Regions from separate parts of the Homo sapiens genome. Here region 1 is linked to region 2. Evidence: fine-mapped expression QTL. A gene starts in region 2. The other region holds a variant in brackets. All regions are shown on one strand. Distances are between the middles of the regions. Region 1 overlaps TNS4 (tensin 4). Region 2 holds the start of IGFBP4 (insulin like growth factor binding protein 4).

Region 1 (9,112 bases), 34 kb after region 2:
CTTAGCCTGGGAGGGTTCTTGGCTTCATTCAGGGAATAATTCAAGGGCAAGCGGTGATAGAAGAAAGCAGCTTTCTAGAGGTGGCAGTGTCACAGCCCTGTGACTGCTCCTGCAGAGCAGGGCTACCCCAGTGTGCTGAGAGCTGCAGCTCAGTAGCTTCCACACTCATATTTGCACCCACTTTTAAACACATGCAAATTAAGGGGCAGATTATGCAGAGATTTGTAGAAAAAGGGTGATAACTTCTGGGTCATTAGGTTGTTGCTGCCATGGAAAGGGGTGGTAATTTCTGGGTGTTGCCACGGCAATGGTAAACTGACATGTCACACTGGTGGGTGTGTCTTATGGAAAGCTCCTCCCACCCCATCCCTGTTTTAGCTAGTCCTCAGTTTGGACCTGTGTCCAAGCCCTGCCTCTGGAGTGCAGTCCCGCTTCCTATCTCATCCTCATTACCTATGGGATAAAGCCCAAGCAGGGTGCCATGTATGACCATGCACTGCATAGCCCACAAAATCATACACAGCAGGCCTGAGTCCCATCTCCTTCATTCAGCAAGTATTCAATCTCCAGACATTCTCAGCTGGCACCCAAGGGTCCTGAGGGTCCTGTTGCTGTCTTTTTCTTCTGCTTTCTCTCTCACCTACTCCCTTAGGTACCATGTACTTGAGCCACACCAAACTTGGTACATCTTTTCATACCTGTGTGCTTCACACACGAATGTCTCCATCTGCTTTCTGTGAATGCTGGGGCAATAGGATGGGCATGGACTTGAAATCCTGTTTCTCTGCCATTTACAGTTAGGTGAATGTGGGCAAGTTAACCCTCTGAGCCCCAGTTTTCTAATCTGTAAAATGGGATTAGGCTTATATAATGTGCCTCAGATTGTATGTAGCACATGAGAGCCCCTCCCCACTCCTAAAAGTTGGTTTCTAACTCTCTTTGCATGCCGAACTCCTATTCATCCTTGAAGACCCAACTCAAATGTTACCTTCTTGGTAACATTGCCCTCCTTCCCTTCAAGTGGGTAAAGTTTATCTTTCTCAGTTTCTACTCTTTCCACCAGCCCTGCATAGCACTTATAAACCTCTGTTGGAAACACTGTCATATTTTTCTGTTTTCCTGGTTCACATGAATAAAGCACACAGCCAGAAAACATTTGTTGCATGAATTAAGGCACTGGCCCCTGGGTTGAAAGCCTTTAACCCTACCCCTGCCCTGGGTCTAAGACCTTGCCCTGGGTCTAAGCCCTGGCACAAGAATGCAGGATCAGAGGCCAGAGATAAAACAGAGCAGTGAGCAGCCTCCGCCCTCGGTGGGGCACGGGCATGGGGCGGTGGCTGGTCAGATGGTCGGGGTAAGGGCACTTCAGCCTCCTGGAGAGGTCTCTGTAGCCTGAGAGCAGGCAGGGTTTAGAGGGTGTGGGAACCTGAGTTTTTGTTTGTTTGTTTGTTTTAGAGATAGCATGTTGCTCTGTCAACCAGGCTGGAGTGCAGTGGCACGATCACAGCTCACTGCAACTTCCGCCTCCCAGTTTCAAGGGATTCTCATGCCTCAGTCTCCCGAGTACCTGGGACTACAGGTGCGCTACCTTGCCCGGCTAATTTTTGTATTTTTTGTAGAGATGGGGTTTCACCATGTTGGCCAGGCGGGTCTCAAACTGGAACCTGAGTTTTGAGAAATGATTGGCAGTGCGAGAGTCTCCCCAGTTCCCTTCTGCTGCATGTCCAGCCACCTGGGACAACGGGGCGAGGAAATTCAACTGGAAAAGAGCAAGAAGGAGGAAAGGTTTCTCTGCAAAGGGGTGATCGAGTAGAGAAGGCATAATGAGGAGAGATGGTGAGAAAGGAGAGAGGGGAAGTGGGAGAAGAGAGGGAGGGAGGGTGGGTGGTATGAGTGTGTACGGAGATCAAGAAAGGGATGGAGAGGGATGAAAAGACTGGGGAGAGAGACACTGGAGCGAGGGCTGCGGCAGGGGTTAAGACCCAGGGCTATAAGGCCTGGAGCCTCCTGGAGAGAACACTCCTCTGGTGTCCTTGGGTGGATAAGATGGCTCCTCCCCTCCTGGTTCCTGGCTCAGTGGTTATCCTGCCTCCCCTCTGCTGTCCAGCCCTCCCACCCCTGCCGGGCTGGCTGCTTTGCCCTCAGCAGTCTTAAGTCAAGTTCTCCGCTAAACCTTCTTAGGGGAAACATGAGCTGTGGCAAATGCAGCAGAAATGATCGCCTTCCACGAACTCTGTTCCATGCTGGGCCAAGCGGGGCCACAGCAGGAGACTGAGAGGAGACTGAGAGGAGTCTCCATCTGGAACTGCACTGGGGCAGTGGAAAGGGAGGCAGAGGCTAACCAGCGGTGGTTCAAGGCCCCTGCCACTGGGTCACATAGCTCAGCCCAGAGAGAAGGAGGCGCTCTCCCATTCCCAAAACTTTTCAGGAGAACAGAAGTGCCATAGCCTCTCTTGCATCGCTTGCTGAGGCCTTCTCAGGGCATGCCAGCCTTGGCTCCCTAGTTGCAGCGAAGTCTGGAGCAGGTCTGGGAGGGAGGCATTCCTCTGGGACTGGCTTAGGGGAGGACTGCCACTGGAAGGAGCTGGGGGTAGAACTCCCCAGGCCCAGGGTGGGATCAAGAGGCCATGGTCCAGTTCTTTTTCTTTTCTTTTTTTTTTTTTGAGACAGGGTCTCACTCTGTCACTCAGGCTGGAGTACAGTGGCACAACCACAGCTCACTGCAGCCTTGACCCCCCAGGCTCAAGGGATCTTCTCACCGCAGCCTCCCAAGTAGCTGGGGCTACAGGTATGTGCCACCACGTCTGGCTAACTTTTTGTATTTTTTTTGTAGAGACAGGGTCTCCCTATGTTGCCCAGGCTGGTCTCGAACTCCTAGGTTCAATCCATCCTCCCGCTTTGGCCTCCCAAAGTGCTGGGATTACAGGTGCGAGCCACCACACCCGACCACAGTCCAGCTCTTCAGGGCGGAGCTGGCAGCTCTGGGGCCATCTGGGTTCGGGGACTCTTCCGGACTCCTCTTGAGGGGTTCATGTTTTGCCCGCCTCTCCTTGTCTCTCAGTGGGGGCTGAGTGAGACCTTGGAATCCGTCAGGGGCACCGTACACACTCACTTTGGGCCCCGGGAAATCACAATCCTTTTGTTTCCCTGGCAGAGTGGCAGGAAAGGGGCGATGAAGAAAGAAGAACAAGCGTGTTGGGCATGTGGGGGACACAGAGTGGTTTAAGCAATGGTTTACGAAGTGGAAGCCTGCTGAGCCTGTAGCGCCGTGGCCAGGGGTGCGGGAGGGAGTGTGGCACACCTGGTCTCCCCTAAGACACAGCCACGCCCTCCCAAGTCAGTCCCCCTTCTCTCTTCAGGTCTCCATTTCCAAGGGCACAGCCCTGACTGCCTCAGAACTTACTGTTTTGCAAAGACAAACATTTTATTTTTCATGATAGGAGCTGTAGCAGAGTATATGGGGGCCTCTGCCAGCCCCCAGGCTGGGACTGGGGCCTGTGACCTTGAGAACCTCATCTCACATTCTGCAGACTTTGGCGGCGGGGCAGTGCTCGACCACTGGCTGGGTGGGCTGGTCTCAGCCTCTCCTGCAGGCCCAGGGCTGAAATCATAACCGTCAGGCCCAGCCTTGGCCAAAGATAATGCAACTTTGGCAGGGCTGGCTGCTGGGAGGGGGCAGGCACTTGCTCCTCGTAGAGCAAGAGTGGGTTTCTTCCCTGACCCTCCCTTCCACCCCGGTAGGGTGGTTTCCTTAGGAACTCAGGCCTGCGGGAGAAATGGTTCCAGCTTCTGGAGGCTGGGTGGGGGTGGGGTGGGGGTGGGTGTGGGATAGAGCCCAGCTCCTCCAAGCCTCTTAGGGAAGCGGCCTCTTTGCATTCTTGACTCTCTGCTTCCCCCGTGTGGCT[G/T]TGAGGCTGGTTGAAGCCACATAGCAGTAGAGGGGCGTGTGTGTGTGTGTGTGTGTGTGTGTGTGTGTGTGTGTGTGTGTGTGTGTGTGTGTGTGTTGGAGCGTGGGTTGGGGGAGGGCTCAGCAAGACAGGAGCTGAGGCAGAATCACAGAGAGATGGCCCTTATCTCTGCCCCCGCCGCCTAATATGCAACATTAGGGCAGCTACGATACCAGCTTTGGAATACTCGCCTATCAAGGAATGGAAAGAAGCTGGGCTGGGTGGCTTGCGCCTGTAATCCCAGCACTTTGGGAGGCCGAAGCAGGTGGATTACCTGCGGTCAGGAGTTCAAGACCAGCCTGGCCAACATGGTGAAACCCTGTCTCTACTAAAAATACAAAATTAGCTGGGTGAGTTGCACATGCCTGTAATCCCAGCTACTTGGGAGCCTGAGGCAGGATAATTGCTTGAACCTGGGAGGTGGAGGTTGCAGTGAGCCTAGATCACACCACTGCAGTTCAGCCTGGGTGACAGTGAGACTCTGTCTCAAAAAAAAATAAAAATAAAAACCAAGTGGAAAGAAAAGATGGGGTGATACTCATCTGCAAGGGGGTGCAGGACAGCTGGGTCTCCTCTGACCATGGGGACAAGTTCCCCCTGCTGAGCTGCCCTAAATACCACACCCAGCTTGGCCTGCAGCATCCTGGCTGGGTGGACCCAAAAAGCCACCCAGAAAGTGGGAAAAGGAACAGAGGAACAGATATGGAAGGAAATAGAGTCTATCCATTCCTGTTTTGTAGTCAGTTCTTGACCATCACCAGCTGCAAGCCAGGAGCCCCGTGGGTCACCGCCAGGCACCTGCTGTCTGCCACGAAACAGGGGCTGCAGGTCTCTTGCTCAGACTGTTGTGTGGGCAGGGCCCAGGTCGATGGGGTCAGAGGGTCCTTGGAGGTTATTTTCATGCAGGGGTCTTCAGAGGTGTGCATGCTTCAGAATCATGGAGGAGCATGTTCAAATGCCCACCAGCATCTAAGAACAGCTGATCTTGTCTATTGGTCTTCTTCTATGATTGAGGAAACTGAGGCCCGGGGGGTCTGGATGATGGTGACTGCTGAAGGCCATAGCAGGTTCAAGGGTGTCAACTTGATGCCAATCCCCCTAGTCCCATAGATTGGTCTGTCAATATGGCCACAAGCCACACCCATTCAGGGGGTGGAGGGGGGCTCCTTAGCGAGCCCCTGGAGGTGTTGGTTAGGTGCACAGGCAGTCTCTCCCCTACATCCTTTCTGCGTCCTGCAGCAGAGCAGTCACCAGGCCGATGACCTGCGAGGCTGGCTGGACCATGTCATACTCCGCAAAGAGGTGGCATACGTTCTCCTGAGGCTCTGTCTGGCTCTTGGCCACAAACCCAAAGATCCTGGTGGGGGAGGGCAGTCTGAGTGAGGGGTGGGACCCAGGGAGGCATCAGGCTGGTGGGAATGGGGTGGTGGGGGGCCCTCAGCCTGCATCTCATTCCTCCCTGCCCCTCCCTTAGCCAATTGACTCCAGCACCTCCTTATGGTGGGGCTCCCTGGGGAAGGAGATGCCTCTCCCGTCAGACTGGGAGATTTCTGAGTTCAAGCTCTGGGTTTCCTTTGTTTTGAGTGAGGGCTCCTTGAGGACAGGACCTGTGCATTCCCCATTAGAGTGGAAGCTCCCTGAGGGCAAGGATGCATCTTGATCATCAGACTGGGACATTCCAATAGCTTGAGGCTCCCTGAAGTTAGAGCCTGTGCCTCTTGCAGAAGATTGAGGGCTCCCAGGCTCATGTCACCCCCAACAGCCCAGAGGCTCTGAGGGCAGTCAAAGTCTTTCCCATCAGATGGGAGCTCCCTGAGGACCAGGGCCTGTGCCCTCATCAACACTTTGGACTATTAAAGTCAGAATGGTGCCTCTTTCCTTCTGCAGTTCCCTCCCCATGTTGGGTTTGGGGCCCTGAGACAGGAAGGCCTTACCAGGAGGGTTTGCAGTACTTCTGCCACCTGTAGGAAAAGAACATGATACCGAGTAATGAGGCTTCGCTCCATGCCACAGGACCCTGGAGGAGCAGCAGGACTGGCCAGCTGCGTCCCCACCCCACCATGCCCCACCCTACCCTCATTCTGTCACCCTGACCCCTTGAGGTTCACAGGCTCCCTCTGGGATCCCAGGCCCAGAGTCGGCAGGACGCCTTGGTGGGCAGCGGGGCCCTGGACAGCCTTCTTAGTTTGGCCCAGCCTTGAACTTACTTCCGTTGCTCAGGGTCCATACCACAGAAGCGGAGGGTGGTGAGTGGGTAATGGCGCCGGAAAAACACCCTAGGAGGAGGCGGGGAGAGAAGGGAAGCGATGACAGCCTGTCCCAGTGTCATCCTGCCTCCAGCATCTCTCGTTCCCCCCAAGCTCAGGTGCCCTGTCCTCCAAGAAGTCTCTGGGTTAGACCTTGAAGACCGCTATGGCCTTTCCCACTGGGGGGCCCTGGCGCCCCGCTCCTGCCTCTCTCCTCTCATGGGGCTTGTCTGCCTCTGTCTTACACTCTGGGGTTTTCTATCACACCCCTACCACGCCATTTAATTTTTTTTGGCCACTAACTTTTTGAGGACACGAATTACATCTTGGTCATCTCTTGTTTCTCCCTGTGAAGTGCTCAGCCCTGGATCAGGCTCCTGTTAGACTGTGAGATCCGAGCCTGGGGAAGGAACGATCTCATTCCTCTCTGGGTCCCAGTGGTCAGCCAGTCTGGCCGAGGGAAGATGTTCCATCAATGGGTGCAGGCATAATCGGCACCCATGAATACTAGTTAACTCCATTTCCTTCCTTCCTTCCTTCCTTTTTTGAGATGGAGTTTCACTCTGTCACCCAGGTTGGAGTGCAATGGCGTGCTCTCAGCTCACTACAACCTCCGCCTCCTGGGTTCAAGCAATTCTCCTGCCTCAGCCTCCCAAGTAGCTGGGATTACAGGTGCGTGCCACCATGCCCGGCTAATTTTGTATTTTTAGTAGAGACGGGGTTTCATCATGTTGACCAGGCTGGTCTCGAACTCCTGACCTCAGGTGATCCGCCCGCCTCGGCCTCCCAAAGTGCTGGGATTACAGGCATGAGCCACCGTGCCCGGCCCCCGTTAACTCCATTTTCATCAGTCATGATGAACAGGGGCTTTGGCAGTGGAGTGAGGCCTGGAGGAGGCAGGGAAGCTGCCTGGAGTCACTCAGCACATCACTGGCCCCGCTGGGTCATCCAGAACCCTGAACTTGACCTTCATCCCTGATCTGCAGCTGTCTCAGCTATCCCCTCCAGCTCTACTCCGCCAGCCCCGGAGCCCCAGGGCAAGGGAAGGCCCTTACTTCCTCTGGACATCAGTCAGAGTGATGCCCTGCTCTGTGACTTTGAAGTGGACCACGGTGGGCGTGGGGAGGATGTCCCTCTCAAAGGTGGTGGAGATGGCTTTCTGCACGGCCAGGGCTCCAGTCAGGGTCTCCACGCTCACTGAGCTCAGGTACAGGGTGTGGCAGCCTGTGGGAGGCAGACACTGCGCTGGGGCCACTGACCCAGGGCCCAGGTTCTCCCTCTGCCCAGGGCCAGGGGAGGGGGTGAGTCTCCTGTTCAGGAATCCAGTGGAGCTCCTCTTAGAGCCGCCACCCAACAGAAAGTGGGTGTGTGGGTGATCACAGTTTGAGGCCAACCCCAGAGGGCTTTGGGATCTTCTGTGGCTTTGCATCGCCCTGGCCCCTGGCCCTCCAGCATGGGGCAGGGGAGGGGATGTTGCCCTGTGTGTAGAGGTGCCCAGGAAAACATCCTTCTGTCCACACTTAACGGCTGCTCTCCTCCCCACACCTCCATCTTCAAGGTCTTGGTTCATTGGCAACGGTAGGGACAGAAGACAAGAATGGGGAAGGAAATTGTTCGTGCTCAGGGCATAGAGCAGGAACAGTCACTGAGACAAGTGCTGATGTGTGCTGGCCTCTGGGAGTGTGGGTCAGGGACCTTTCCCCTGGTGAAGGCTCCAGGACTTAGACCTGACACCCCATAGAGGATCCCAGACCCAGAACCACCTCTAGGGCAGGTTTCTCAGACCTAGAGAGACCCTAGCACGTGTGCACATGCCCATGTGTGTGCAGGAGGGACTGTAAGTTCTGCCACTCCCCCCACCCCCCACCCTGCCCCACTTCCCTGCTGGCCTCTCATCTTCTGTTTTACAGGGGTGATGGGGAGCGGGTGTGGCACCTTGTTAAAGATGCAGAAACAAAGCTGAGATGGGAAACACGTGTGTGCCTGTGCGTGTGTGCGTGCATGCGTGCGTGTGTGCAGGGTTGGGAGGTGCCCTCTTGGGGCACAGCCAAGCTTGGCGCCTCCCTTCCTGTACCACTCACCCGCAGATTTCTTCTGGCAGGAGGCTGGGCTGTCTGTAGAGTCCGAGGCCCCATCTGCACCTCCCAGTTCTGAGCCAAGGCAAAGAAACAGGCCCCCCAAAGGGGCGGGGGTGGAGTGAATGGACCCCTCTCACAGGAACAGGCCTCATGAATCCCTTTGAAGATCTCCCACCTCCACCCCCATCTCCAGGAAGTGACTCAAACCAGGTGTGATTACCGTAATTAGGCAAACAGGCCACTTTGGGCTCCCTAAATGCTTAGTTTGCAACCCTTTTGATCTCTTCATCCCCTCCTCGCCCCCCCACCTCTTAGATGGCTGCCATGATCTTGTCCTCACAGGCCCCTGACCTCCTCACTTCTTTTGGACCCTGTCTCAACCCCTGACCTGTCTTTGCAGAAAGCGAGGAGGCTCTCACCATCGCTCCTCTGGGGCTCCCTTGCCTTGATGCCCTTCCAGAAACAGCCCTTCTCGAGCTTCTCCTGCACACCCCTGAGATGATCTATTTCATCTGAGCTGCCCCCCTACCTGGCTGTATGCTCTGGATAGGGCATGCTGATCTGGGTTCAAGGTCTGACTCTGTGGGCCTTTGGGCAAATTACGTAACATCTAGAACCCTCGTTTTCTTTTCCTTCCTTTCCTTCCTTCTTTCTCTCTTTCTCTCTTTCTTTCTTTCTTAGATGAAGTCTTGCTCTGTCGCTCTGTCACCCAGGCTAGAGTGCAGTGGTGCGATCTTAGCTCACTGCAACCTCTGCCTCCCCGGCTCAAGTGATTCTCCTGCCTCAGCCTCCTGAGTAGCTGGGATTACAGGCGCCCACCACCACGCCCAGCTAAATTTTTGTA
Region 2 (8,925 bases):
TCACGAGGTTGCTGTGAAGTGCTCATGAGTGAAGCACTTAGATCCCTATCCTGCATGTAGTCTGTGACTACTGTGTTAACTTTTTTTTTTTTTTGAGACAGAGTTTCACTCCTGTAGCCCAGGCTGGAGTGCAATGGTGCCATCTTGGCTCACCGCAATCTCCCCCTCCCAGGTTCAAGTGATTCTCCTGCCTCAGCCTCCCCAGTAGCTGGGATTACAGGCACACGCCACCATGCCCGGCTAACTTTTTGTGTTTTTAGGAGAGACAGGGTTTCACCATGTTGGTCAGTCTGGTCTTGAATTCCTGACCTCAGGTGATCCACCTGCCTCGGCCTCCCAAAGTGCTGGGATTACAGGCGTGAGCCACCGCGTCCGTCCTGCTCTTTTTAGAAACAATTTTATTTTTTATTTTTAAGAGACCAGGTCTGTCTCTGTTACCCAGGCTGGAGTGCAGTGGCACTCATAGTTCACTGCAGCCTTGAACCCTTGGGCTCAAGGGACCCTCCTGCTTCAGCCTCCTGAATAGCTAGGACTATAGGCTCATGCTACCATAGCTGGCTAATTTTTTTTTTTTTTTTTTTTTTTGAGACAGGGTTTCACTCTGTTGCCCAAGCTGGAGTGCAGTGAGCTATCTTGGCTGACTGCAACCTCGACTTCCTGGGCTCAAGTGATTCTGCTACCTCAGCCTCCCAAGCAGCTAGGATCACAGGTGCATGCCACCATGCCTGACTAGTTTTTGTATTTTTTTTTTGCAGAGACAATGTTTTGCCAGGTTGCCCAGGCTGGTCTTGAACTCCTGCGCTCAAGCGATCCACCTGCCTTGGCCTCCCAAAGTGCTGGGATTACAGACGCGAGCCACCATGCCTGGCCCCATGCTCTTTATACAGCCTCTCCCAGACACGACACTTGCAGGCTGAAGGGGGACACTAAACCCAGTCTTCTGAGAGCCTCTAGTTCAGTGGGGGAGACACAGGTCTTGCCACCAGGGGGTCTCAGCCATGTGGAGAAGTTACAGTTCCCAGCAGGAGAGGGGTAGGAGGGAGCAAACACTTGGTGCTTACTATGTGCCAGGCAATTTGGATAGGTCTCTCTCTCTTTCTTGCTGCAAAGTCCCATTTTCCAGATAAGGCCTGAAGCTCAGAGAGCTCAAGTAACTTGTTTTAGGTTTCCTAGTGAGCCCAGTGACACGGCTGGGGTCAGAATCCAGGTCATTGTGACACTCACACTGTGCTGATTCTTGTAGCATGGAAGGCCATTGGCTCAAGGATCATCTCTCTCTTTTTATTTTTTATGGTGAAAAGATATACATATATTTAGAATTGGACAGCTGGACTCAGTTTAGACGATCCCAATTTTGTTGGCAACATCCAAAGCATCGTAATCAGGAGCCAGTCCAACATATGCCTTCTTCTCTCCATCAGGCTGAATCGGGGTGTTGACCTTGGCCACATCAATGTCATAGAGCTTCTTCACAGCCTGTTTGATCTAGTGCTTGTTGGCTTTAACATTCACAATGAACACAAGTGTGTTGTTGTCTTCTATCTTCTTCATGGCAGACTCAGTGGTCAGTGGAAACTTAGTGATAGCATAGTGGTCAAGCTTGTTTCTCCTGGGGGCGCTCTTCTGAGGATATTTGGGCTGCCTCCGGAGTCGCAGTGTCTTGGGCCGCCGGAAGGTGGGTGACCTGTGGATCTTCTTTCTTTTTGTGGCTGTGGACACCTTTCAACACTGCCTTCTTGAGTTCGGCTTTAAGAGGGGCAGGAGATTCTTTCTTTGCCTTCAGCACCGTCTTGTGAAAAAGGATCATCTCTAATGAAGACTTTCAGCCTGTATGCCCTGAATGTAAAACTGACCACCTGTGGCTCTGGATCCCCATTGTGCCCCATATGAACATCTCCCAGGGCACCTGCACACTTCTCAGATTTATTTTATTTACATACTATCGTCCCTCATTAGGCAGTGAGCTCCTTGAGGGCAGGGGGTGATCTTGGTCATCTCTGCATCCCTGGTATGTAGCATAAAGCCTGTGCATATTAGGCGTTCAGTAAATCTGTGTTACATGAATGGTAGGAGGTGCTTGGAAGGCCTCTTTCCTGTGCATCTTCCTGCCTCCTTGGAATTAACCCAATGATGAGGGGTGGAGGGACACCAGAGGATGGACTGAGGGGCTGGCGTTGAGGTGTGGGAATCTGTCTCATCTGGCAACCTTTGCAGATTCCCACACTCACCTGCACTCATGCTTCATCCCAGGCATGTTGCGTGGGTTTGTCCGGCCTCTCCTGCACTCCTGCCTCTGTGTCCTGGCACCTTTTCTCCTCTTGGGCTTGCTGAACAGGGCACATGTCTGGCATTGGGAGCAGAACTACTCTTCTCCATTCATTTTACTCTCACAAGAGCTTCAAGAGGTAGGATGGGTGGAGATGATCTACCTCCATGTTACAGCTAAGGTCAGTCAAACTCCAAGTTCACGCAAGTTGGTGGCAGAACAGGGTCCAGTGATGATCAAGGAAGGAGATGGGGTGGGGAACGTTTTCTTTTCTTTTTTTCTTTTTTTGAGACTGAATCCTGCTCTGTTGCCTAGGCTGGAGTGCAGTGGTGTGATCTCGGCTCACTACAACCTCCATCTCCTGGGTTCAAGCGATTCTCCTGCCTCAGCCTCCTGAGTAGCTGGGACTACAGGCACGTGCCACCACGCCTGACTAATTTTTTTTATTTTTAGTAGAGACGAGGTTTCCCCGTGTTAGCCACGATGGTCTCGATCTCCTGACCTCATGATCCACCCGCCTTGGCCTCCCTAAGTGCTGGAATTACAGCCGTGAGCCACCATGCCCGGCCTGGGGGCAGTTTTCTGAATCAGGCACAGGCTGGGCTTCCCCAGGGACTTGAGGAAGCTGGTTCTGTTTGCCCTTCTCCAAGGCATATGGGGCAGAAGGGTCCCCACTTCATCTATGAGATGGAATGGAGAGAACCCCAGAATCTTGGCCCCAGCCATCACTTTCCAGCCCTTCTGCAGTCTTGATGGTTGCCAGTAGGTGCCGTCAGTTTGCAACTTTTTGGTCTGTCCTGCAGGTCCGGCTGCCAGTCCCAATCTCCCTGCAATCATCTCTCAGTAAGTAGGAGGTAGCCCAATCCCCGTGAGGCTGAAAGACCCCTGTCCTGGGGGAAGAAGCAGGAAGAGGGTCTCTGAACTGCATTTCAGCTTGGCTGACCTGCAGCTTTCTAGGCCGAGACAAAAAAAAAAAAAAATCCACAGTGGGTTACTGATTATTCCTGGACAGGTACGCTTAACCTGAAACCAGCTCCAGTACAGCAGAAGCCTTTGTAGGGAAGAATGGGTGGGAATTAGCGGGGGCCTGAGAGGGAACCTAGGAGATGGATCTTTGCTCCAAATGCCACTCCAGGGCTCTTCTCAATTTGGGCAGGATTGGGCAAGGCTGGGGGAATAGGGATCAATAGGATTTTACAGAGGGTCAAGCCAGGCCCAACACTAGCCCAAGTAGCAACACTGGGTGAATTAAAAAAGCATCCCTTCCTTAAAATTCTTTTTTTTTTTTTTTTTTGAGACAGAGTCTTGCTCTGTCACCTGGACTGGAGTGCAGTGGTATGATCTTGGATCACTGTAACCTCCTCCTCCTGGGGTTCAAGCGATTCTTCTGCCTCAGCCTCCCAAGTAGCTGGGATTACAGGCATGCGCCACCACGCCCGGCTAATTTTTGTATTTTTAGTAGAGATGGGGTTTCACCGTGTTGGCCAGACTGGTCTCAAACTCCTGACCTCAGGTGATCTGCCCACCTTGGCCTCCCAAAGTGCTAGGATTACAGGCATGAGCCACTACGCCTGGCCTTCTTTTTTCTCTTTCTTTCTTTTTTTTTTTGAGATGGAGTCTCGCTCTGTCGCCCAGGTTGGAGTGCAGTGGCGCAATCTCAGCTCACTGCAAGCTCCACCTCCCGGGATCATGCCATTCTCCTGCCTCAGCCTCCCTAGTAGCTGGGACTACAGGCACCCGCCACCACGCCCGGCTAACTTTTTGTATTTTTAGTAGAGAGGGGGTTTCACCGTGCTAGCCAGGATGGTCTCGATTTCCTGACCTCGTGATCTGCCCGCCTCGGCCTCCCAAAGTGCTGGGATTACAGGCGTGAGCCACCGCGCCCGGCCTTCTTTCTTTCTTTCTTTTTTAGACAGAGTTTCCTTCTTTCACCTAGGCTGGTGTGCAGTGGTACAATTCTAGCTCACTGCAGCCTCCAACTCCTGGGCTCAAGTGATCCTCTTGCCTCAGGCTCCCGAGTACCTGGGACCACAGGTGAACGCCACCACACCTGGCTAATTTTAAAATTTTTTTGTAGAGACAAGGTCTCACTACGTTGCCCAGACTGGTCTTGAACTCCTGGGCTCAAGTGATCCTCCCGCCTCAGCCTCCAAAAGTGCTGACATTACAGGTGTGAGTCACTGCTGCAGGCCCCTCAAATCCTTCACTGCCATCTGGGAAATGATCACAACAGCTCTACAAATACACAATGATTACAAGGAATGGTGCCCCACTGGAGTTGTTCAACGCAAAACTTGCACATTGCAAGTGGCAATCTCCCAGGCCTGCCTCCCTCCACGAGTGGGTCTGAATGGGCCTGAGAGGCAAACATCCAAGAAGGAGGAAGAGGCTCGGCGGCACCTCCCTCCCCGGGAGTTCTGCTGATTCCATCTTGGGGAAGCAGGGTGGACCAGGGCCCAAATGCGCCCTGGGGAGATTGCGGGGGCGGGAGAGGTTGCAAGGGGCAAGTGGCAAGAGCCTGTTAACGTCTTAGGGCCTCCAGGCCTTTCTGTGCCCCTAGCTGTGCCTGTACGCTTTACCCCACCTCAGGAGGCTTGGTCTCCAGCGGTTGAGGCTGGAAGCACCGGGGTGCGGTGGAAAGGGCTCTGTCCAGGAAGACCGGATCCGCAGAGCCGGGAGTCCGGGCTAGGAAGTCCCTTTCTCGGTGGGAGACTGAGGCCGCCTTGGCGGGGCGGGACGAGACTCCTCCGAGGTCGGGAAAGGGGGCCCCGCAGCAGCCCCTTGGCTTCCCTTCTCCCTTGCCTCCCCTCCGGGGCTCCGGTTCAGAGGCACTCTGGGCGCCTGCTACAGCTTCCAAACTGCGCCGCTTCCTTCTTCGGCAGAAAAGGACTTTCAGATGCGGCGGCGGCGGCGGCGGCGACTCAGGACAGCGCCCCCTCCCCCTAACGGCCGCCTCTCCCTCTCCCCCTCGCCCGCCCCGGCTCCCCCACCTCTGGGAAGGCGCTGGGGGTGTGGCCAGGGACCGGTATAAAGTCCGGGGGAGCCGGTCCCGGGCAGCCGCTCAGCCCCCTGCCCCTCGCCGCCCGCCGCCTGCCTGGGCCGGGCCGAGGATGCGGCGCAGCGCCTCGGCGGCCAGGCTTGCTCCCCTCCGGCACGCCTGCTAACTTCCCCCGCTACGTCCCCGTTCGCCCGCCGGGCCGCCCCGTCTCCCCGCGCCCTCCGGGTCGGGTCCTCCAGGAGCGCCAGGCGCTGCCGCCGTGTGCCCTCCGCCGCTCGCCCGCGCGCCCGCGCTCCCCGCCTGCGCCCAGCGCCCCGCGCCCGCGCCCAGTCCTCGGGCGGTCATGCTGCCCCTCTGCCTCGTGGCCGCCCTGCTGCTGGCCGCCGGGCCCGGGCCGAGCCTGGGCGACGAAGCCATCCACTGCCCGCCCTGCTCCGAGGAGAAGCTGGCGCGCTGCCGCCCCCCCGTGGGCTGCGAGGAGCTGGTGCGAGAGCCGGGCTGCGGCTGTTGCGCCACTTGCGCCCTGGGCTTGGGGATGCCCTGCGGGGTGTACACCCCCCGTTGCGGCTCGGGCCTGCGCTGCTACCCGCCCCGAGGGGTGGAGAAGCCCCTGCACACACTGATGCACGGGCAAGGCGTGTGCATGGAGCTGGCGGAGATCGAGGCCATCCAGGAAAGCCTGCAGCCCTCTGGTAAGGTACCCCTGGCCTCCCAATTCCCTCCTGAGTGCGCTCCCTTCCCAGCGGCTTCTTCCCCATTCCAGCCGCCCTGGAAGGCCCTTAAAAATCCCCTATGAGTTGAAGAGAAGGCAGGTACGTGGCAGGGCCCGACTGGCATGGGACAGGCTCATCAAGGAAACTGCTACCGAGTCCCTAGCAGCCTGTTGCCACCACCAAGGGAGACTGTCCCATCGCTCCATCTCAAACCTCCAAGGGTTGTCTGTTTGATAAGGGGGTCCCAGTGGGAGGCCTGGCTGCTGGTGCAGGAGTGGCAGATTAAGGTCCAGTTAAGTCAGCTGTCTAGGGCCAGAGAACTGGAGGATGGTGGTGGGGTGTGTGTTGGGGAGGATGAGGGAGTGGGGAAAGCTTTCTGTTCCTGATCCAGGCCGAGGGTGAAATCCCAGTGGTCTGGGGAGCCAGGGCCTGAACTTTTTTTTTACATGGTCCAGTGGTGGAGTGGGACATACAAATTAGAGGGACTTTGGCGTTGAGGGGCATTAGACTTGCCCTTCCCCAAAGCCCAGAGCCAGGTCACCTTGTTGTTTGAGAGGCAGTGGGAAGACAGGGGTCCCTCTGCCAGGCCTGGACACCTCTGCCTGCCCTGGTATACAGGCCCCCTGTTCTTTTCTCCAGGCAGGTAGGATTTGAGGTGGTAGAAAAGTCTTGGCTCCTAGCCGAGAGCTGCAGGAGCCTCATGTGTGTGGGATAGGGAATAGAGAAGGGGCCAGGGCGCCAGGGGAGAGAAACAGAGAGAGAGAGAGAGAGAGAGAGAAACACACACACACACACACACACACACACACACACACACACACAGAGACAGAGAGAGAGAGAGAGAGAGAGAGAGAGAGAGAGAGAGAGAGAGAGAGAGAGACTCTGAGAAGGCCCTTGCCCTAACCTCATTCTTACACTTTCTTTTTTTGTTTCTCAGTTTCTCCTTAGACTCTCAGTCTCTTTTCCTTCTTTCTCTTGCTCTTTTGTTCTTCCTGATTTGTCTCTCAACCTCTAGTTTCACTAGTCATGCTCTCGAGTTCTGTTTTCCTCAGTGTCTTCTGCCCATCGTGCGTTTCTTTCTCCACCTTATTCTGTGTTTCTGTTTCAGTTGCTCTGCTTCTCTCCCTCTCTTTCTGTTGCTGTTTCTCTGTGTCTCTGTCACTGTTGGTCTTTCCCTGTTACTTTGGGAATCTCTCTGTCTGTCTTTCTGTATCTATGCCTCTGTTTCTCATTCCATCTCCGACCCTGTTTTGCTCTCCTGTGCCTCTGTCTGTCTCTGTCTCTTTTCCTGGTGCTTGAAGCTTCCATTGTTGCAGTCCGGATGCTGGGACTCCAGCCCCAAGCTTCCTGTCCTGGGACCCAAACCCTCCACTTCCTCAATCCTCTGCAGCTTGTCAGCCGAGGAGAGCAGGATGCAGGGAAAACAGGAAGGAGGTGGACTCCAGGGGTCTGGGCCTCGGGCCTCTCTGCCCTTCCTGCCCCTGGGTAGGGAGAGATGGGTCAGCAGAAAACATTCTAGGAGAAATGCCAGCCTGGCACCCAGCATATCTGGGAAGGGGGGTCCTGGGGGAGAAAGTCGCTAATCTTGGGGCAGAGATGCCAGTGGCAATGGTAGAGGAGGGGTACTGAGACTGGGAGGGAGCAAGGGCCGAGCCCTTGGGTTCGCGGGGTACAACAGAGTCACGTTCCCTTTGAATCTCCATCCTCCACCAGCCAGAGGGTATCTGGCACCAGATAAGGATGGCTGGTAGCCTCCTCCTCTCTCAGCACTTTGAATGCAAGACAGAAGAGCCCTCAAAGGGCTGGGTAGGAATACCTCATCCTCTGGTTGGGTAGGAATACTCCATCCTGTAGTGGAGGAAAATAAGATCCCCTAGGGGTTTGGGGAGGGCATGGCATGAGAATTTTGTGGTTGTCCTCTGGATATAATGCAAACTGGCCTCCAGGAATATCTAGGGGCTGGGTGTGGAGGTTCATGCTTGTAATCCCAGCACTTTGGGAGGATTGCTTGAGGCCAGGAGTTCGAGACCAGCCTGAGCAATATAGCCAGACCCCCGTCTCTACAAAAAAAAAAAAAAAAAAATAGGCAACTGCAGTGGCTCATGCCTGTAGTCCCAGGTATTTGGGAGTCTGAGATGAGAAGTTCAAGGTTACAATGAGCTATGATCACGTGATTGCACTCCAGCCTGGGCGACTCTATTTCGTAAAAAAAAAAAAAAAAAAAAGTAGGCCGGGTGCAGTGGCTCACACCTGTAATCTCAGTATTTTGGGAGGCTGAGGAGGGTGAATCACCTGAGGTCAGGAGTTTGAGACCAGCCTGGTCAACATGGTGAAACCTCGTCTCTACTAAAAATACAAAAATTAGCTGGGCATGGTGGTGCGTGCCTGTAGTCCCAGCTACTTGGGAGGCTGAGGCAGGAGAATCACTTGAACCCGGGAGGTGGAGGTTGCAGTGAACCAAGATTGTGCCACTGCGCTTTAGCCTGGGTGACAGAGCGAGACTCTGTCTAAAGAAAACAAAACAAATAAACAAAAAAAACAAAAAACGGTGTCTTGGAATGGGGTGGCTTTAGGTCCCCTTTGGATGACACAGCCAAGGTCTGTAATGCCCCTCCCCCTTTCCTCCTTGCCTTGTCCTCCAGCCTCCAGCCATGCAATGGATGCAGGTATCTGGAGAGAGACGAGGGAAGCCTGGAGGTACCTACTGAGCAAGCTATGCCCGTGCCCTCCCACACCTCCTAGTCATCATAGAAGTAATCCCTTGCTGTGACCTGGGCCACATGGCACCATGTAAAAGGCACTCTCTAGAGTTCTGCTGCAGCCCTGCAGGGTCTGTGGGTGAGATAAGACGACCAAGCCCCTACCCACCCATCTTTTTAGCCTTACACAGTCAGTAGGCCACTGTCTGCTTTAGGTCCCAAGGTTTGGGCCCACTGGCCCGCGAATAG

What was found.
Region 1: its variant is fine-mapped to the expression of IGFBP4 in whole blood (TOPMed, PIP above 0.99). The same link has a PIP of 0.9 or more in T cells and blood mononuclear cells.

Annotation. Positions count from the first base shown.
Region 1 is chr17:40,472,429-40,481,540 of GRCh38, forward strand. TNS4 (tensin 4) reads right to left here. Exons shown (of 13, transcript NM_032865.6): 9 at 8,272-8,340; 10 at 7,246-7,414; 11 at 6,152-6,220; 12 at 5,879-5,905; 13 at 3,406-5,301. The coding sequence ends at 5,160. Among named protein-coding and RNA genes, the nearest start is that of TNS4, 25 kb to the right of the region's middle. RefSeq lists enhancers at 1-130, 7,689-8,888 and a silencer at 8,871-9,056. The variant G/T (reference allele first, on the strand shown) is at 3,906.
Region 2 is chr17:40,438,129-40,447,053 of GRCh38, forward strand. IGFBP4 (insulin like growth factor binding protein 4) reads left to right here and starts at 5,322. Exons shown (of 4, transcript NM_001552.3): 1 at 5,322-5,956. The coding sequence starts at 5,608. It also overlaps the pseudogene RPL23AP75. RefSeq lists an enhancer at 3,123-3,172 and silencers at 5,219-5,408, 5,419-5,468, 5,479-5,528.